Linked DNA regions of Homo sapiens. The protein of the gene in region 1 interacts with the protein of each later gene in a pairwise test. Each region holds a gene or a part of one and is shown in the gene's direction. Other genes may lie near its edges. The genes, in order: RAD51D, CCNL1, KATNBL1 and LIMS1.

What was found.
Region 2: the proteins of RAD51D (region 1) and CCNL1 interact in binary tests that used the Homo sapiens proteins (3 or more experiments, as listed by UniProt).
Region 3: the proteins of RAD51D (region 1) and KATNBL1 interact in binary tests that used the Homo sapiens proteins (3 or more experiments, as listed by UniProt).
Region 4: the proteins of RAD51D (region 1) and LIMS1 interact in binary tests that used the Homo sapiens proteins (3 or more experiments, as listed by UniProt).

Annotation. Positions count from the first base shown.
Region 1 is NC_000017.11:35,095,856-35,102,904, reverse strand, and holds part of RAD51D (DNA repair protein RAD51 homolog 4), read left to right. Parts: intron 1-1,539; coding exon 1,540-1,704; intron 1,705-1,868; coding exon 1,869-1,952; 3' UTR 1,953-7,049. UniProt on the Homo sapiens protein: Involved in the homologous recombination repair (HRR) pathway of double-stranded DNA breaks arising during DNA replication or induced by DNA-damaging agents. Bind to single-stranded DNA (ssDNA) and has DNA-dependent ATPase activity.
Region 2 is NC_000003.12:157,147,053-157,150,196, reverse strand, and holds the end of CCNL1 (cyclin-L1), read left to right. Parts: intron 1-27; coding exon 28-132; intron 133-219; coding exon 220-361; intron 362-600; coding exon 601-712; intron 713-811; coding exon 812-910; intron 911-1,607; coding exon 1,608-1,956; 3' UTR 1,957-2,644; downstream 2,645-3,144. UniProt on the Homo sapiens protein: Involved in pre-mRNA splicing. Functions in association with cyclin-dependent kinases (CDKs). Inhibited by the CDK-specific inhibitor CDKN1A/p21. May play a role in the regulation of RNA polymerase II (pol II).
Region 3 is NC_000015.10:34,140,125-34,144,096, reverse strand, and holds the end of KATNBL1 (KATNB1-like protein 1), read left to right. Parts: intron 1-1,725; coding exon 1,726-1,758; 3' UTR 1,759-3,423; downstream 3,424-3,972.
Region 4 is NC_000002.12:108,677,421-108,684,469, forward strand, and holds part of LIMS1 (LIM and senescent cell antigen-like-containing domain protein 1), read left to right. Parts: exon of another isoform or gene 1-71; intron 72-558; coding exon 559-607; intron 608-1,018; exon of another isoform or gene 1,019-1,181; intron 1,182-3,274; coding exon 3,275-3,350; intron 3,351-3,548; coding exon of another isoform or gene 3,549-3,696; exon of another isoform or gene 3,697-3,740; intron 3,741-6,464; coding exon 6,465-6,579; 3' UTR 6,580-7,049. UniProt on the Homo sapiens protein: Within the IPP (ILK-PINCH-PARVIN) complex, binds to F-actin, promoting F-actin bundling, a process required to generate force for actin cytoskeleton reorganization and subsequent dynamic cell adhesion events such as cell spreading and migration.

The DNA of each region.
Region 1 (7,049 bases):
ATCTGTTTTCCATCCCAATAGTTTGGCCTTTTCCAGAGCTTCATATAAATGGATCTTTTTGCTATTGAAGTAACTTTTTCTGCTTATGAGGTAGTTTTTTTAAAGTCTGCATGCTTCTCATAGAAAGGATAGAAAATAAATATGATTCAAATTTGTCATCAATCTCCACATCCACAGAAACCATATTAATATTTTTACATATCTCCATACAATACTTTTTCTGCATATTTACTTATACTTTTAGCCAACTTTCTTTCTTTCTTTTTTTTTTCTTTTGAGATAGGGTTTCGCTCTGTTTCCCAGGCTGGAGTGCAGGGGCACAATCACAGCTCACTGCAGCTCGACCTTCCAGGCTCAAGCAATCCACCCGCCTCAGCCTCCCAAAGTGTTGGTATTACAGGTGTGAGCCCACACTTAACCAGCTTTCTAACTAAACTAACCTCATGAAAAAATAAAAAAAAATAGGCCAGGTGCGCTGGTTTATGCGTGTAATCCCAGCACTTTGAGAAGCCAAGGCTGGTGGATCACTTGAGCCCAGGAGTTCGAGACTAGCCTGGGCAACATGGCAAAACCCCACCTCTACAAAAAATACAAAAACTAGGTGGCCTTGGTGGCAGGAGAATTGCTTGAGCCTGGGAGATCGAGGCTGCAGTGAGCTGTGATCATGCCACTGCACTCCAGCCTGGGCAACAGAGCAAAACCTCATCTCAAAAACAAACAAACCAAAACAACAACATAAAAAATACCATCTGAGTCCATTTCCTATGTTTTAAAATAGATTTTTTAGAAATGTAATTTTTAGCAGCTATATATTTTTTCCAGTTTCTTTTATTGTGGTAAAATACATGTAACATAAAATTTACTATCTTAACCACTTTAAGGTATACAGTTCGGTGGTGTTAAATACATTCATAACGCTGTACAACCATCACCACCATCCATCTCTATAACTCTTCACCTTGTAAAACTGAAACTCTGTACCCATTAAAAATAACTCATTTTCCCCTTCCCCAGCCCCTGACAACCACCATTCTACTTTCTGTATCTATGCTTTTTGACTACTCTAGGAACCTCATATACATGGAATCATATGGTATTTACTTTTTGTGACTGGAGTATTTCACTTAGCATAATGTCCAGAAGGTTCATCCACCTTGTAGCATGTGTCAGACTTTCCTTCCTTTTAAAGGCTGAGTGTCTGGGCGTGGTGGCCCACACTTGTAATCCCAGCACTTTGGGAGGCTGAGGCTGGCGGACTGCATGAGCTCAAGAGTTTGAGACCAGCCTGGAAAGCATGGTGACATGTGCCCCATCGCCTTCTGGTTCGGGTCAAACCTGAGGCATCGAGATTTAGTGGAAAGAGCGGGGCACAAGTCAGGAGGCCCAGGTTCTAGTTCCAGACCTGCCATTAGGTTTTGTAACCTTGGGGAAGTTATTTCTCTGTGCTAGGCCTCTGTTTTCCTCTCCGTAAAATGAAGCGGTAGTAATCGATGTCCTCTATACTAGCATTATGGATCTGTAAGTCTGTTTCTGCTGCAGGTGACCAACCACATAACTCGAGACAGGGACAGCGGGAGGCTCAAACCTGCCCTCGGACGCTCCTGGAGCTTTGTGCCCAGCACTCGGATTCTCCTGGACACCATCGAGGGAGCAGGAGCATCAGGCGGCCGGCGCATGGCGTGTCTGGCCAAATCTTCCCGACAGGTGAGCCAGCCCCAGGAAGATGCCAGTAATCTTGGGCCCTGGAGGGTGGTTTCCATACCCACAGATGTCTTCGAGAAGAACTCTTTAGAGGCTGAAACCTTGCAACTAAAGAAGCTACCCACTTGGGTTGCTTAACTCCACTGACTCCTTACTTCTTCTTCCAGCCAACAGGTTTCCAGGAGATGGTAGACATTGGGACCTGGGGGACCTCAGAGCAGAGTGCCACATTACAGGGTGATCAGACATGACCTGTGCTGTTGTTTGGGAAACAGGGAAGCATTGGGGACCCCTCCCAACTTTTCTTCCCAGTAACGCCTGCTGTTTACTGCCACCTGGCACTGGTGACTACAGACGTTCTCAGGCTGGCCAGAAGAGACATCTTGGGTTCCTTGGCCTCACTCTCTGTAAGCATATAAACCACAGGCGAAAGAGGATGCTGCATTGCGAGGACCCAGAAATTCATACTGGTGCCACGTTTCCTTCCCTTATTTCTAACGTGTATGTTTCTGGTGGAAACCAAGTTCACCCTGGCTGGGAGCATCTCTGATGAGGCATGCTGGCGACTGGATGGATAATCCTGTGCATCACCATTGTGTCCTGTGCTCCCTCCTAGCGCAGTGGCCAAGCCGGGAAAGCCTCTAACTTGCCTTTGCTGCTGCTGCCTTTTTTTTCTTTTGTCTCTGCCTTTCCATTTGTTAGATGGGGGCCCACTCTTCCTTAGCTCTGTCTCTGAGTTACTGGGTGGAAATAAGCTTATAAATGAAATACTCTTCTTCATCTCTGTTTTGCTCTTAAAAATATAAAAAGGCAATTCCCCGAGCCCTAGAGCCACCTGATTTCCCCTTAGAAGGCTGTTTTTCAGTTTCCCCCAGTGAGGCCCAAAGAACAGTTTATTCCTCCTTTCCTCTTGCTGATTTGGTTTCAGACCTGCCTGCATCACCATGACTAGGTGAGAACGTGTGGGCTCGCTGCAGTTCCAGGGATATAATTTAACAGAAAGGGAGGGTATGACCTGCTCCTGGTGAATCCAGCCACTCATTTAATATGCATGGTGCCCTGTGGGGCCCCTCCACAGTACAGCATAACCAGAGGTGCTGAACCATGGCCTTGCCCATAAACAGACAGAGGAGAATTTGCACAGTAAATAGAGCCAGCTGGGAAAATTGATGCTGACGTAAATAATACATGGCAAATCTAGTCCTTTATGCAGAAATTCATTGCTGGTGGCTCCAAGATGCAATATAATTACACCTCTCTTCCTGCCAGCTGTACCACAGCTAGTGCCCTAGTGTATGAAATAATCCCTCTGTCTTTCACCAGCACTGTGGCCATCCGTCTGAGAGCCATGACCCTGGCTGGGAGGGGACGAAGACACCAGGGAATGGAAAATAAAAGGAAAAGTACAGAAATGATCAGGATTGGTTACTGGCCACATCTTTTAAAGGAAGGTCATCTTTCTTGGTTAGAGAGCCTGTTGTGTAATTAATCAGTTATGTCTTGGCTGCAGGAAAGGAGGGTCCGAGTTACACTCAGAAAGTAATGACATTTAGAGGTGATGAATGCAACAGGGATAGAATCATGGAGGATTGGGAAGGAGTGGCAAACTGGCACCAGGGTGTTGGATTCAGGACAGGGTTGGTAAGCCTAAGCCTGGGGGAATCCTAGCGCTTGCTTTCACAGAAGACCTCAGGAGAAATTAATCTTCAGTATCTTTATACCATGGGTGATTGGCACATTCCTGCAACCACAGTAAGATGCAATACATGAAGCTGGAAATTGCAAATTCTTGCCACTCAAGGTACTATTTGGGCATCTTCAGCCCACAGCAGACATGACCAATCGGGCACAAGCACTCTTTTTTGTGGAAGTCAAAGTGTTTTTAGAAGTTTTTCTCAATATAGCACTCCAGGGGGCCACTACCAGTCAGTTGGAGTTGGTATTCAAGGTGGAGTCTGGTTGCCGTCTCTGCCCTGTTCCCATTATGTAGTGAGTTCAGGTACTTAATACCTAACTGAGGACCCTAGGACTGCAGTTTGAGATCATCTGGGGCCAGGCACAGTGGCTCACACCTATAATGGTAGCACTTTGGGAGCCTGAGGCGGGAGGATCACTTGAGCCCAGGAGTTTAACAGTTTAAAATCAGCCTGGGCAACATGATGAGACATCGTTTCTACAAAAAAATTTTTTAAATTAGCTAGGCATTGTGATGTGCACCTGTGGTCCCTGCTACTTGGGAGCCTGAGGCAGGAGAATCGCTTGAACCTTGGAGGTTGTGGCTGCAGTGAGCCCTGATCGCACCACTACACCCCAGCCTGGGTAACAGAGCAAGACCCTGTCTCAAGGAAAAAAAAAATCATCTGGCCCATCCTGTTACTTAACAGAGAAGGTACCTGAGGCTCAAAAAGGATGACTGACAGTCCTAGTGGCAGAATGGAGGTGGGATCTGGAACCCACAACTTGATTCCTAGGACTCTTTTTTTTTTAATTCCCACATTGGCTGGGTGTGGTGGCTCACGCCTGTAATCCCAGCACTTTGGGAGGCTGAGGTGGGTGGATCACCTAAGGTCAGGAGTTCCAGACCAGCCTGACCAACATGGTGAAACCCCGTCTGTACTAAAAATACAAAAATTAGCCAGGCATGGTGGCCCATTTCCTGTAATCCCAGCTACTCAGGAGGCTGAGGCAGAATCGCTTGAACCTGGGAGGCGGAGGTTGCAGGGAGCTGAGATGGCGCCACTGCACTCCAGCCTGAGCGACAGAGTGAGACTCCGTCTCAAAAAAAAAAAAAAAATGCAAAAATTAGCCAGGCGTCGTGGCGCATGTCTGTAATCCCAGCTCCTCGAGAGGCTGAGTGGGGAGGATCACTTGAGCCCAGGAGGCAGAGGTTGCAATGACCTGCGATCATGCCACTGCACTCCAGCCTGGGCAACAGAGACTCTGTTTCAAAAAGAAAAAAAAAATCCCCACATTTTATTTAATTTTCAGTCCATACAGTTCTATTCCTGCTAGGGCTGTAACTCCAGCTGAAGGCACCACAGCTGTCACCCAAGGAGTTTCTGTGGCCATGGGAAGGTGTTGCATTCACTGCTACTTGAGACCACCACGTGACATTCCTGCAGGCTGTGCCCCTCACAGCCAGCTTCATCCTTTGGCTCCTCCTAGACCAGGACTTTGTCTTGCCTGCCTGCTGCCACTGCACTCTGTTCCGGCCACACCACACTGTGCAGTCCCCTGGTAGGACTTGGGCTAGGCTGGCTCTCCTGTCCAAGTGCCTTTTGCTCCCTTTGCTTATGTGTCTGTCTCTGCCCAGCTCCCACTGTGTCTGGTGCACACCCACCCTGACATCCTTTTTTATGCCTCAGCTGTGATCTAGATAGATGCTTACAGTAACTTCCCTGTATTAGTTATTCACTTGTACTTTCTGTTCACGTGTCTGCCTACAGGCTCCCACTTTTTGTCACTTTTTCTCTTTATACATTATGGAAGCTCAGTAATGATTAAATAGATGAATGATGTTTTAAAAATATATTTTAAAAAAGCAAAGGACTGGCTCTATCTCAGGGGTTCCTTCCATAAAGCGTCAACTTTCAATTTCCCCTGCGGGGGTGGTTTGAGACCTGAGGGCACTCTCTAGTTCTTAGGAAAAAAATATACATATACATATACATATATATATATATATACACACACACACACACACATATACACACATATATATACATATATATACACACATATATATATATACACACATATATATACACACATATATATACACATATGAGCCAGGCGCAGTGGCTCACGCCTGTAATCCCAGCACTTTGGGAGGCCAAAGTGGGCGGATCACAAGGTCAGGAGTTCAAGACCAGCCTGGCCTATATAGTGAAACCCTGTCTCTACTAAAAATACAAAAATTAGCTGGGTGTGATGGCTCGCATCTGTAATCCCAGCTACTTGGGAGGCTGAGGCATGAGAATCGCTTGAACCTGGGAGATGGAGGTTGCAGTGAGCCGAGATTGTGCCACTGTACTCTAGCCTGGGCAACAGAGTGAGACTCCATCTAAAAAATATATATATATGTTCACACCCACATCATTGAGTCCCCAGAGTGTCTTCTTACATATCTTTTTACAGGGGACTATTGTATGCCCTTCGTCTGACATCAGATGAAATTAATGTTGAGATCCTACTATGTGCTAGCACTTGATGGCCTTAATTAAAAATCAGGCATTTGAATTCCCAAGGACTCAGGCAAAGGTCCATGTATCATTAAGGCTGCAAGTAACAAAACCTAGGCTTAAAGAAGTGTAAATACTAGGGACACTTATTTATATTTATTTCTTTTATGTTTCAAGACAGAGTCTTGCTCTGGAGTGCAGTGGCACAATCACGGCTCACTGTACCCTCTACCTCCCAAGCTCAAGTGATCCTCCCACTTCAGTCTCCCAAGTAGCTGGGACTACAGGTGTGTGCCACCACACCCATCTAAGTTTTGTATTTTTTGTAGAGACGGGGTCTCTGTACGTTGCCCAGGCTGGTCTTGAACTCCTGGGCTCAGGTGATCTACCCGCCTTGACCTCCCAAAGTGCTAGGGATTACAGTCATGAGCCACCATGCCTGGCAGGGACACTTATTATCTCTGATAACAGGAAGTCTGAGGTTTGTTAATTTAGTGGCTCATTGTCAAATGGCGTAGAGCCTTTGCATCCTTCTGCTCTGTTCTTTTATGTTGGTTTTGTCTTCAAGCTTGTTCCCCTTATGAAAGCCTGGCTGCAGCCATTTTGAGCATCAATCCAGACGTGACAATATCTACAGGCAGGAGAAGGATCGCCTCCTGTGTGTCCTTTAAAGAACAAGGTGTTAACATGCCAGGAACTGTGGCTCCTGACTGTAATCCCAGTAATTTGGGAAGCCAAAGTAGGAGGATCGCCTGAGGCCAGGAGTTCCAGACCAGCCTGGGCAACATAGCAAGACCCTATCTCTATAAAATAAAATAATAAAAATTAAGAAAACAAGGTGTTAAAAGACAAAATTAAAGCAAATATAGTTTTGCAGATTGTAATTGACTTTTATTTGCAATTCTAGAATTGGGCTGCCCTCAGAACCAGGACAGGTTCAGAGAATTCCAGAGCTGCAACATAGTCTGAAAGCATTTATGGTCAGAAAACAGAAATGAGATACAAAGACAACTAATTGGTTACAGCTCTGCCTTTGCCTTATTTGAAAATGGTTTGAATAGTTGGCTGCCTGGAACCCACTGAAGCTGATGATGTGATTGGCTGAGCCTCAGCAATCTGTTACAAAAGTATACTCCTAAATTAGGTTTTCAGTTAGTTTGCATACTA
Region 2 (3,144 bases), on another chromosome or scaffold:
TTAAAACATTCTGTTCTTATGGTTTAGATTCCGTTGCCAACTCGTCCCCATTGGTTTCTTCTTTTTGGTACTACAGAAGAGGAAATCCAGGAAATCTGCATAGAAACACTTAGGCTTTATACCAGAAAAAAGGTATTCTCTATTTACTCGTTTGTGCCAACATGCTAAGAGTCCAAGCTACTCTAAGGAAGAAATACTAACTTTTTTTTCCTCCAACAGCCAAACTATGAATTACTGGAAAAAGAAGTAGAAAAAAGAAAAGTAGCCTTACAAGAAGCCAAATTAAAAGCAAAGGGATTGAATCCGGATGGAACTCCAGCCCTTTCAACCCTGGGTGGATTTTCTCCAGCCTCCAAGCCATGTAAGATGTATTTAGAATTAAAATGACTTGGGGGCACTGAAAGTGTGTCTTTATTAGAGAGCTTTTACATTTGAAAGTTGCATAGAGAAAAATGATGTTAGGAAACTGCTGCTATGTTCTCTCATGGCAGTCAACCAACATGGAAGCGGAAGCATGGTACTTTGAGTTACATTTAGAAACAACTTTTGGCCCTCTGTTAAATCCAGTAGTTAACATGTTGTTATTATATCTTTTAAAAGCATCACCAAGAGAAGTAAAAGCTGAAGAGAAATCACCAATCTCCATTAATGTGAAGACAGTCAAAAAAGAACCTGAGGATAGACAACAGGCTTCCAAAAGCCCTTACAATGGGTGAGTATACTTGGGCTGGAAAACTGGCTTGAGGAATCTTTTATGTGTTTACTTTTTAACACACTAAGTTTGTAACTAATATGTCATGATTTTTTGAAGTGTAAGAAAAGACAGCAAGAGAAGTAGAAATAGCAGAAGTGCAAGTCGATCGAGGTCAAGAACACGATCACGTTCTAGATCACATACTCCAAGAAGACAGTAAGTAAATGTTTTCTTAGGGAAGCAGTCTTATTTGGAGTTTTTAAAGGTTATTGCTTTTTCTTTAAAAATTGAACATAGATTATTTTCAAAGTTAGGTTAGAATTAGGCTTTTAGTATGAGGCAAATTATGAGAAATGAGTTTGGAGATGTTCTGGACATACAGTATCTTAATGGCATTCTGTTATATTTTCTCCCATGTTTTTTGGAGAAGTGTAGGAGCTACCCACAAAGTGCTTGAGGGCCATAGTATTGTTCATAATGTGAAAACTTCTTTTTTTTTTTTTAATTTCAGTTAGAAAATGTGTTTCATTAACCCCTTATTAATAACCAATAATCAAATTAACCAGTCAATGAATCTTCTTTAGTTAGGCCTGTAATTAGATTGTTAGCTCTTCGTGGCTCTTCAATGTCTTTTGAACATGTGGGAGATACTTAATAAAAAGCATAGCTCTAGGACACTATAAAAATTGCTAATTACTCCCCTTGGAATAAAGACATAAGAACATTTGCTTAAGATTTAATATGTTATATATAGGCTTGGGCATACAGCAGTGAGGGGTGGGGAGATTTTGAAAAGTTCTGGTTTGTCATTTATGTAGCTGGTAGTTTTGTTTTGAACCTGTTATGAGCAACCACCGGAATAATCTGTTCCCCATAGAAACTGAACCTAAACTTCAAATTTTTATTATCTAAGCTATAATAATAGGCGGAGTCGATCTGGAACATACAGCTCGAGATCAAGAAGCAGGTCCCGCAGTCACAGTGAAAGCCCTCGAAGACATCATAATCATGGTTCTCCTCACCTTAAGGCCAAGCATACCAGAGATGATTTAAAAAGTTCAAACAGACATGGTCATAAAAGGAAAAAATCTCGTTCTCGATCTCAGAGCAAGTCTCGGGATCACTCAGATGCAGCCAAGAAACACAGGCATGAAAGGGGACATCATAGGGACAGGCGTGAACGATCTCGCTCCTTTGAGAGGTCCCATAAAAGCAAGCACCATGGTGGCAGTCGCTCAGGACATGGCAGGCACAGGCGCTGACTTTCTCTTCCTTTGAGCCTGCATCAGTTCTTGGTTTTGCCTATCTACAGTGTGATGTATGGACTCAATCAAAAACATTAAACGCAAACTGATTAGGATTTGATTTCTTGAAACCCTCTAGGTCTCTAGAACACTGAGGACAGTTTCTTTTGAAAAGAACTATGTTAATTTTTTTGCACATTAAAATGCCCTAGCAGTATCTAATTAAAAACCATGGTCAGGTTCAATTGTACTTTATTATAGTTGTGTATTGTTTATTGCTATAAGAACTGGAGCGTGAATTCTGTAAAAATGTATCTTATTTTTATACAGATAAAATTGCAGACACTGTTCTATTTAAGTGGTTATTTGTTTAAATGATGGTGAATACTTTCTTAACACTGGTTTGTCTGCATGTGTAAAGATTTTTACAAGGAAATAAAATACAAATCTTGTTTTTTCTAAACTGCTTCAAATACCTTATTTAAATAAATTATTAAAAAGGAAAATTTTAATAGCAAAATGGCTGTACTGGTTTTCTGACAAACTTATTCTTTCCTCCATTAGATGGTAGTTTGAGATTATTAAAATGCAATTCTTAACTGCATTGTGAGCTATTGTAAGTCTTCACTGTATATATGGAAAAAGTAAATGGGAGTCGCCCAACAATGTGACATTAAATGTTATATTTTAGCACTAAACCAAAAAACCTGATTTGCTTTTGAATGGTGTCATAAGGTAATTTTGAGTCAGATTTAAGTACTATTTCTGAAATGAGGTACCCTATTGAATGAACCAAAACTTAGTAACTATTGAGCTTTAACAGTTCTGTATAATTTAGGCATTTAATGTTACGATTTTTACGTAGGCTAGGAGAAAATGTGAGGCCCCTGAACTTGAGTGGTTGATAGAATACAAGCTGATCACAAAGAAGTGAAGTTTTGATGAAAAAGCCGGAATTTCTATCCAGATGAATGTTTTCAAGTTACTCACATTTACTATTTTTTTCAACATTTTGGAAATCAGTTTACAGAGTCAAAATGTTGCATCGCTTTATAATTACACTAAGGTCTCCATTACATTTATTTTACCTACTTTAATTGTCCACTAGACTTGGCTCCAAGTGATTTGTTGCTGTTTCAAGAAATAAAATACACCCACAAAGAGGAAGATGTATTACTGCTAAGGATATTTTTAAAAATAAAGTTA
Region 3 (3,972 bases), on another chromosome or scaffold:
CCCCTCTCCCAAAAAAAAAAATTTCTCAGATACCTTCAAAAAAAAGAAGCAAAATGATATATCAACCAAGTTTGTTACCACTGTGTGGGATTTTACTCTATAGAATTCTTTTTTTTTTTTTTTTTTTTTTGAGATGGAATCTCGCTCTGTCGCCCAGGCTGGAGTGTGGTGGCGCAATCTCGGCTCACTACAAGCTCCACCTCCCAGGTTCACGCCATTCTCCTGCCTCAGCCTCCCGATTAGCTGGGACTACAGGCGCCCACCACCATGCCTGGCAATTTTTTTTTTTTTTTTTTTTTTTTTGTATTTTTAGTAGAGACAGGGTTTCACCATGTTAGCCAGGATGGTCTTGATCTCTTGACCTCATGATCCACCTGCCTTGGCCTCCCAAAGTGCTGGGATTACAGGCGTGAGCCACTGCGCCTGGCCTATAGAATTCTTAATGATGAAAATCTTATGAACATATCAATCTCCTAGAAAGTTTTTGTTGTTGTTTTAGGTTTTTAGAGCATACATGACGTATTACCTTGCTCTAAAGGGTTGTTGCATTCTGTATAGAAGAACTAAAAAATGATTGTTCCTTATGACTGAAATTTGCTTTCAATCAGAATTTTTTTTGTTGTTTTTGTTTTGAGACTGAATCTCGCTCTGTCGTCCAGGCTGGAGTGCAGTGGCACAAGCTCAGCTCACTGCAACCTCTGCCTCCTGGGTTCAAGTGATTCTCCTGCCTCAGCCTCCCGAGTAGCTGGGATTACACACATGCCTGGCTAATTTTTGTATTTTTAGTGGAGACGGGATTTCACCACGTTGGCCAGGCTGGTTTCGAACTCCTGACCTCAAGTGACCCACCCACCTCCCCCTCCCAAAGTAATGGGATTACAGGCGGGAGCCACCACACCCGGCCACAATCAGTTTTTTACAAAGGGAAAAGCTTTATTGTGAATATGACTTTAAGGTACCATTTATTATTGGGGACAATATTGAGTGATTAAAAGTTCAATGCGAAGTTCCTTATGATGAGACTTTCTTACAAAATTAAACCATCAATTAATTTGTAATTTTTTGAGTATAGAAATTGAAAGAAGAGGGCCGGGCAAGGTGGCTCATGCCTGTAATCCCAGTACTTTGGGAGGCCAAGGTGGGCAGATCACGAGCTCAGGAGATCGAGACCATCCCGGCCAACATGGTGAAACCCCATCTCTACTAAAACACAAAAAATTAGCCGGGCGTGGTGGTGCACACCTGTAGTCCCAGCTACTTGGGAGGCTGAGGCTGGAGAATCACTTGAACCCTGGAGGTGGAGGTTGCAGAGAGCCAAGATCACGCCACTGCACTTCAGCCTGGTGACAGAGCAAGACTCTGTCTCAAAAAAAAGAGAAAGAAATTGAAAGAGGCTATTGTCAAGCTGGGCTCAAGTGAATATAGCACTGATAGTAAACAGCACTGATAGAATTTCTGTGAATGTTAGCTATGAAAGCAGAGTTGTTTGAGCATAGGAACCAACACATTCATTTAGCACTTAGCAAATATATATTGAGCACATACTATGTGCCAGGCCCTGTGCTGAACAAATGCAGATAAAAGCACTGAACAAGGCACGTCTTTTACCCTCAAAAGGTCACAAAAGGAAACTAAGGCAAATTAAGCAACAACAAAAAAAAATGGATTGTTTATGTTTGTATTTACTGTACTGTCTAATGAAATGTTTTTGTTTTATCTTCTAAGGATGTAGATGCTTATTTATTACAGTTACATTGAGAGATTTCATCTACTAAAGAGCATTTGGTTTTTCAAAACATCCCTGAACTGTATAATTTACAAAAAAAAAAAGTCTCGTCTGAGAACTGTGAACTGTGGAAGAAATCAAAACTATTTTTTCTTTTAAAAAGCCACGTAATGAAACCACTAATGAAATCCCAGCAATCTGCTTCACATTGAAGTGGAAAAATATCCAAAAGGAGCAGCTTCAATTTCATTGAGGTGAAAGTGCACTATGAAGATTGTTCACCTTTGCTGCATTTGGGAGTTATATGGTTATTTGGTAACATTAAGAACTACTGGATTTTAATGCAATCCTGCATAAAAATATAATTTATACTATGTGAAAAAATAAGACAGGACTTACCACTAGGAACCACCAAGACCAATCATCATTAACTTTTTTAAGATTGTGTTTTATTAAAAAAAAAAAACACTTAAATGTGTGCAGCTATTTTCTTATGTTGAAAAGACTGAAAGTTTAAAACATGAAAAAAATCAATATTAAACATTTTTTGTTCACACTGAGATACTGTGTATGTAAAATGCCTTAATTATTAATAAGCCAATGTGTTATGATACCAATATCTGTTTTAAAAAACTAAAACCAACCATGCTTCTGGCATGATAAAATCATGGAATTAAATCAGGGGTTTACATTCTTGTAGAGTGTTCTTGAAACACTCTCTGCACCATTTTTAAAACTTGAGAATAGTTTTAGTATCTCTGATATTTTTTGCCAGAATCATCATGTCATGTATGAATGTGTTATCCCTATCTAAGGAAAAAGGTGAATATGTTTTTGTATGAATGTTTAACTGGAAATGTCCATGGACTTGGCTAATTTATATTTACTTTTTATTGTACATAGATTTCTAATATTTTTCATTCCTGTATCATTTAAACTTCCTTCATTTGAGTAAATTCACTAAATATTTCTATTTTTTGCTTTTTTAAATTCTGATTTTATATGAATTCTAATTCTTTTTCACTACATATGTTTTAAAGAGTTACATACAGTGATTTAGAATGGTTTACAGTTAATGCTGATCTTGTATTTTAAATTCCAACACTTTGTGTCACTACCTCCTCTAATGGTTAGTATGATATGCTAGCAGACTGTATGAGGTCTTTTTTTAAAATACCACTTTTAGTGTCAGTGAACCAAATTCTGGAATGTCTTAACAGCTCTAAATCTTACTTGTCTTGAAAATGATTGGGGTTTAATACCACTGCTGGTGGTTCACACATCATCCCATCCTTAATATGCCTGACAGGCATCTGAGCAAAGGTTTTTAGTAATTGAATTTCTCTGCAGTAGTCCTTCAAGCACTTGAATGTAAACCTTTAGCATTTATTCGTTTAATGACTACTGATACGAATCTCAAGCAGATTTCTTGCTCTTAAAAGTTATGTTTCACTGAGTTCTGGTTTTGTGTAGCTATATTTTATATAGCTAGATATTCCTCACAGTGAACATGAATTGTAATAATTGGTTATTTCCTTAAGTCTTTAGATTATAATAATTTCAGATTATTGCACGTCTGTGATTTGAGAGGTGAGTTATTTAAGAGGCCAGTTTTCAGGACATGGGAATTTGAATTGTAAACCTGTTATCTCTGTGAAACTTTTAACATGATAAAATATAACCTTTCTTTGTGCTTATTCCTGTAGTTATCACTGTCTTATGTAGCAGTTTGAACCAGTTAACTTGGTTGGAGTATGGTGCTAAAGAGGCCGTGGACAGGAGTTTGATGCTTTTGTAGGTTCATTAACTTTACATACACACAAAATGTTTTTATAGCTGTCGATTGCACCTTCCGTCAGGTATCCATCTCAGAAATTCAGGAAGATGGTATGTATAGCTTAGCATAAACCTTTCGCCTCAAATGGAAAGATTACTCAATGGGTATATGTGATACTGTAGACTTTTAATCTAACATTTAAAATAATAGATTCAAAATAAGATATCTAAAATACTGTGTAATGTTTAGTTTCAAAGTATTAAGTAATATTACATCAGATATTTTTCACATTTTTCTCTGGGTCAGATCATTGACTAAACAGTATCTTCAAAAATCAAACTTCAATAAATCAGACTTCAGAAAAATTAAGTACAAATGACATATAGTAAGAACAGGTATTATCTTGGTAACATTTATACCTAAATTTAGGTTTTTTGAAGGCATGTAGATAATACTTTATCTTACATAC
Region 4 (7,049 bases), on another chromosome or scaffold:
CTGCCCTGGTGATCTCCCAGGCATGGTGCTGGCTGATAACATCACTGTGAATTACAATTTCCTTCCCTCCTCTGTAAGAAAGAAGCAATCTGTGGGCAATCATTTTATGACCATGGAAATGTCCTGTTCCTCATCAACCTGCCCTAGATTCAGCACCCCTTGATGATTCTTGTCTCTGCGCCAGCTGCAAACGACACTTCTCCAGCCCCATGCCCTCCACCCATAGTCTGGTCCTCAGCGCTCTGCCTGAGCAAGAACCCACCTCCTCTCCCGTCTATAGGTTTATTCATTTATCTATTTCTTATCCATATGGACTCACAGATTTCTATATTTTGCATCACTTATTTGGGTGTTCAAACTGTCATCTGGAAAGTTTTTCTTTTAATTGATGAGAGTGAATTACTTTCATTGTAAGAAGTAAAAACTTGTCAAAGAACTTTTACTAAATTTCTCTAGTAGTGATAAATCCTCAATTTAGATAGCCAGCTATTTTTAAATGTTCAGTGTTCTAAAAATTCTAACACATCTTGAACTTTGACCACCTTTTTTTATTTTCAGCTATTTGGTGATGTTTGCTTCCACTGCAATCGTGTTATAGAAGGTGATGGTAAGTATCTGTGTGAGTTTTAGATTGGTGCCACTTTGACACAAAAACACTTGGGTAATGTGGAAATTCAGGTTGGTGATTGTATGGTTTGAAATGTGATCGTTATCAGTTACTTTTTCTCTATCTTTGGCGTATTTTCCAAGTAATCTGTAGCAGTAAGATGATAATATCAAAGAGTTGGATTTGTTACTGATTTATGACACTACTTTCGGCCACTGCTGCAGTGTTGTATGCCAGCAATCATGGGAACTGTCCCTGGTGGACCCTAAGACCTGTTTGTGTCCAGTTTCAGGAAGCTCTAGAACAACGTTTATTAGGAACAGTTTAATCTGCTATCGTAGTTAGGAAGAGGCACTTTAACCTGCACATGCTAAAAGCTGGCAGTTATCAGCAAGCATATCTAGGACTTACCACCCTTGTACTGTGGTAATTAGGCTGGGCTGATTGATTGGAACAGAAAGGAAGCAGCTGTGTTTGCTAAGACTCGCTAACACACTTCTGCCAGAGACTTCCTGGCAAAGTTTTGAACAATCCTGTTTTCAGCATGATTCATGGCTCCCTGCAGACATCACCTAATTCAGGAAATACTTTTGAAACACTGTTCATGTGCAGTTTGTGAAAACAATCCAGGAAAACAATCTTTAGTGCCATTGAAAATAAAACTTACCTCCCTCCTCTGTGAAATAGATGCCAGGTGAAAGAAGCTGCAAAGGAAACTGTCTTCTTATCATCAGCTCTGGAAAAAAGACTCCTACAGGGGCAAATAAGTTAATGTCTGGATTTTTGAAAATTATTTACCTAGTTCATATTTCCATGTTGGGCCAACAGCAGTAGGGACAGAAACAGCAAGCTCACCTAAACAACATGGTGCATGGACAGTTGCCACATGTGCCCAGGCCAAGGGGGCACAGTTGCTGGTGTAAGACATGGCACACATCATTTATAACTTCACAGGATACTTAAGGATGGGGGAAGATTAAAGTCAGCCCTCCGTATCCAGGGGCTGGATCCAAACATCCGTGGATTCAACCAACTATGGATCAAAAATATTTAGAGAAAAATAACAATATAACAGTACAAATAGTACAGTATAATGACTATTTACATATCATTTACATTGTACTAGGCATTATAATTAACCTAGAGATGATCTAAAGTATACGAGATAGGACCAGGCTCAGTGGCTCACGCCTGTGATCCCAACACTTTGGGAGGCCAAGGCGGGCAGATCAACTGAGGTCAAGAGTTCAAGAGCAGTCTGGCCAACATGGTGAAACCCCATCTCTACTAAAAATACAAAAACTTAGCTGGGTGTGGTGGTGCATGCCTATGATCCCAGCTACTCGGGAGGCTGAGACAGGAGAATCACCTGAACCCGGGAGGCAGAGGTTGCTGTGAGCCAAGATCACACCATTGCACTCCAGCCTGGGCAACAAGAGCAAAAACTTCGTCTCAAAAAAAATAAATAAATGTATACAAGACAATGTACATAGGTTATATGCATTTTATATCAGGGACTTGAGCGTCTGAGATTTTGGTATCCTCACAGCATCCTAGAAACAGTATCCTGCACATACTGAGCAACAACTGTATACATAAAGGTTGAGGGCCGGGTGTGGTGGCTTATACCTGTAATCCCAGCACTTAAGGAGGCCGAGACAGGAGAATTTCTTGAGGCCAGGAGTTCGATACCAGCCTGGGCAACAGAGCAAGACCTCCATCTCTACAAAATAAAAAATTAGCCAGGTGTGGTAGCACACACCTATGGTCCCAGCTACACAGGAGAACGAGAGGAGAAGATTGCTTGAGCCCAGGAGTTCGAGCTGTGATCGCACCACTGCAATACAGCCTGGACAACAGAGCGAGACCCTGTCTGAAAAACAAAAGAAAAGAAGCTCTCAGGAAAGAGGTTCTTGGCTGGGCATGGTGGCTCATGCCTATAATCTCAGCATTTTGGGAGACCGAGGCAGGTAGATTGCTTGAGCCCAGGAGTTCAAGACCGTCCTGGGAAACATGGCAAGACCGTGTCTCTATAAAAAATACAAAAATTAGACAGGTATAGGCCGGGCGCAGTGGCTCACGCTTGTAATCCCAGCACTCTGGGAGGCCAAGACGGGCGGATCACAAGGTCAAGAGATTGAGACCATCTTGGCCAACATGGTGAAATCCCGTCTCTATTAAATACAAAAATTAGCTGGGCATGGTGGCACGCACCTGTAGTCCCAGCTACTTGGGAAAATGAGGCAGGAGAATCGCTTGAACCCAGGAGGCGGAGGTTGCAGTGAGCCGTGATTGCGCCACTGCACTCCAGCCTGGCAACAGAGCGAGATTCCGTCTCAAAAAAAAAAAAAAAAAAAAAATTAGCCAGGTGTAGTGGCATGCACCTGTAGTCCCAGCTACTCAGGAGGCTGAGGTGGGAGGATCACTTGAGCCTGGGAGGTTGGGGTTACAGTGAGCCAAGATTGTGCCACTGTACTCCAGCCTGGGCTATAGAGCAAGACCCTGTCTCATTTAAAAAAAAAAAAAAAAAAAAAAAAGGTTCTTGAGAACCTCCACCAAGTGCCACAGACACAGTCGTAGTTCTGTTTTGGAGTTGAAATTCTAAGCTGCCCTGCTCCCCATACTGATGTATTTCCATGTGACCAGATCTCTTTCCTCTTTCTCCAGTGGTCTCTGCTCTTAATAAGGCCTGGTGCGTGAACTGCTTTGCCTGTTCTACCTGCAACACTAAATTAACACTCAAGTAAGTGTACGGTTTTGTCCAGTGTGAATCCTAAGACTGAAAACTTTGGGGAGACACTTAAAAAAAATCCTAGAATTTAGAAAAAGAGAATTATTTGATTTCTTATTTCCTCTTTCTGTTCAGGCCTTCTGAAAGTAAAGGTTCTTCCTTTAACTGTTCCCTGTTCTTTCTTCTATTCCTTCTTTGTCCTACTCAAAGGGATAAGTTTGTTGAAATTGACCTAAAGCCAGTCTGCAAACACTGTTATGAGAAAATGCCAGAAGAATTTAAGAGGCGACTTGCCAAACGGGAGAGAGAAGCAAAGGATAAGGACAAGCAGAAAAAGAAAAAGCCAGTCTGTTTGTAAACTTTTCTATCCCTGTGTCATCATTTTCACTGCTTTCTCCTTTGGTTAGTCCTTTGGAATATGTTTTTGTTCTGTTTCTGTCTTTTGCTTTCTTCCCCCCCTGCAACTTTTGGGCATGTATTTGTAGTCATCAGAGATTGAAATACAAGTATTTGTCCTATGTAGAACTGGTCCTTTTGCATAACTGCTAAAATTACAAAAATTAAATGAATACACTCCATACTTAATACAGTTTTGTGGTCATGTATTTCACTTACTCTGTAGACTCACTCACCTCATTTTTTAAACACCATATAGTATACATTTCTTTCTTTTTTTTTTAATGGATTTAAAGGGAAGAATTCTAATCTCTTAATAGACCCTGGAAAACATTTTAAAGGATTTTTGTCTGATTAACTGTAGCTTTTAAAATCCTGGTTTTTGGTTTCCTTGCCACGATCATTTAATTGATAAATTATAAGTGTTGTTTGATATTTTTAAAAATGCATATATTCTAAGTTATGTATTAAATTATTTCAGCATGGCGAGGCATGGTGGCTCACGCCTGTAATCCCAGCACTTTAGGAAGGCAGAGTGGAAGGATTGCCTGAGCCCAGGATTTTGAGACCAGCCTGGACTACATGCCTAGACCCCATCCGTCAAAAAAAAAAAACAAATTAGCCAGGCGTGGTGGCCCATACCTATAGTCCCAGCTACTCAGGAGGCTGAGGCTGCTGCAGTGAGCCATGACTGCCACTGCACTCCAGCTTGGGCGACAGAGTGAGACTCTGTCTCAAAAAAAAAAAAAAATCTTTCAGCATGTTTCGTATCTAAGCAAAGTCCATCTGATTTACGTAAGACATCTTCTTCTGTGATGTTCGAATGTGCATTCATACAATACCCATATGCTACTGTTTATGAATTCATTTCCTCAATGTCTTCAAACTCTTTTTTTATTCCTGATTTTTATGAGAAGTATTTCAATCTTTGAAATTCTTTTGAATTACCAGCATGATTGTTCCAGTTTTCCCTCATAGTTACCATTGTGTTTGGAGCTCTAAAAATATTTTGTTCCAGTTTACATGTTTCCTTCTATAAAGAGGAATTAAATGTAAATGTAAGATTAAAACAATGAGGCCGGGCATGGTGGCTCACGCCTGTGATCCCAGCACTTTGAGATGCCAAGGCAGCAGATCACTTGAGATCAGCCTGGGCAACATGGTGAAGCCCCGTCTCTACTAAAAATACAAAAAAATTAGCCAGGCATGGTGGCGGGTGCCTGTAATCCCAGATACTCGCGAGGCTGAGACAGGAGAATCGCTTGAACCTGAGAGGCGGAGGTTGCAGTGAGCCGAGATCGTGCCACTGCATTCCACCCTGGGCGACAGAGTGAGACTCTGTCTCAAAAAATAAAAAATAAAAAAGATTAAAACTGGAAAGCTTGCTAAGGTAGTCTGTCTGAAAACAGGAATAATTTTTTTCTTTTATCAAAAAAATGGCAGTTTTAATAGCTTTTGCTCTAAGATGACCTTGGGAGAAAAGCCGTAAAGTAATTCCCAGTGTAGTGTTTTAAAATAGAAGATTTTTCATTTTAGATATGTGTTTAGGAATTTCCTTTGTTACTAACATTGTCCTTTAAAATGATCTTGAAGCAAAGTCTAGTTTAATATAATGTTTAAATGCAGTAAAAATATCAGCAGATTTTATAATTTTTGTCATAGATAGCAATATACCACTAGATTTATTTCACAAATGCTACCTGAATATAATTTCACAGACAGTGAACAAGTTACCAAGTTGTATATTTACTCAATTCAAAATTAAACACTCTGGATTTCAACAGTAATAAGCTCCTGTAATTACCTGTTGGAAATGCATTACAGATGATCAGGAGGCTATCTGAAAAGTTGTCTTCTCCAGGACCATTTTAAAAATAAATTGATAATGTGTGTTGCTCTAGCTTTTCAAAAGAATAGTTGAGTTCTTCAAATAGCTACCGCTTACAATGCAACCACAGGTGATCTGGTTACATTTATGTTAAGAGTGATTAAAAACTTTCTTCCAACCTTTCTGTCAGATAACCAAAATAACCCCTTATAATTTAAAATTAATTAAACCTCATGGCTACCTAATTTAAAGTACTAAGTAAGATCATGTTGCCTCCAATAAAGAAATCATTCACATTATAAAAATATGATTCTTTCCTTTAGATAAATTTATCTTTAAGGTATTCTAAAATGTGATTACCATCCTAGGCAATACGACAGGACCCTGTCTCTACAAAAAAAAATTTTTAAGTTAGCCAGGCATAGTAGTATGCACTTGTGTCCCAGCTATTCAGGAGGCTGAGGTGGGAGGATGGCTTGAGTCCAGGAGTTAGAGGCTGCAGGGAGCTGTGATCACCACTGCACTCCAGCCTGAGTGACAGTCGAGGCTCTGTTTCCAAAAAAAAAAAAAAAAAAAAGTGATTGACTGTACTTAAGTTAATTATATTTACATTAGATTTCCTGTTTACTTAGTACTGAATAAAATGTAATCTACAGTCTGTGTTACACAGATGGATGTATAGAACCAATTTATAAGGACTTTTTTTTAAAATTATACTGAATTTTTATATATATATCACAATAAGAATTGAGGTTAGGATTATGGTTTTTTTACTAACATGAATATAATATCATCACCTAGTTGCCTTCGTTTAGTTCAGTACAATTACTGCACATCATTTATATATCTTTGTTGAATATGTTTCCACTAACTTCTTTTTTTTTATAATTTTTTGTCTTTAGGAATAAGTTTGTGGAGTTTGACATGAAGCCAGTCTGTAAGAAGTGCTATGAGAAATTTCCATTGGAGCTGAAGAAAAGACTTAAGAAACTAGCTGAGACCTTAGGAAGGAAATAAGTTCCTTTATTTTTTCTTTTCTATGCAAGATAAGAGATTACCAACATTACTTGTCTTGATCTACCCATATTTAAAGCTATATCTCAAAGCAGTTGAGAGAAGAGGACCTATATGAATGGTTTTATGTCATTTTTTTAATTAAAAAAGAAAAATTCATATAATCGTGTTTAAAACACAAATGAAGTCAGTATTTGCCTTTGTTAACCCTTATCCATTTGTTGACATGTAGACTGTTTACAAAAAAAAAACACATGGTTAAATGTTAAATTTTAATTAAGGCCCCCAAAAATTAAATATAACTTTTTAAAATGAAAGGAGTCACCTTTTACATGACTCAGGTGAAAAAACAGTATAAACATTAATTTACTTTGTGTTCAAAAGAAAATTCCAACTGCTGTTGGGGAAGGACACAGAAAAGAAAAATAACCACCCAAGAAAAACAAAAACAAGAAAAACAAATCTTATACAAT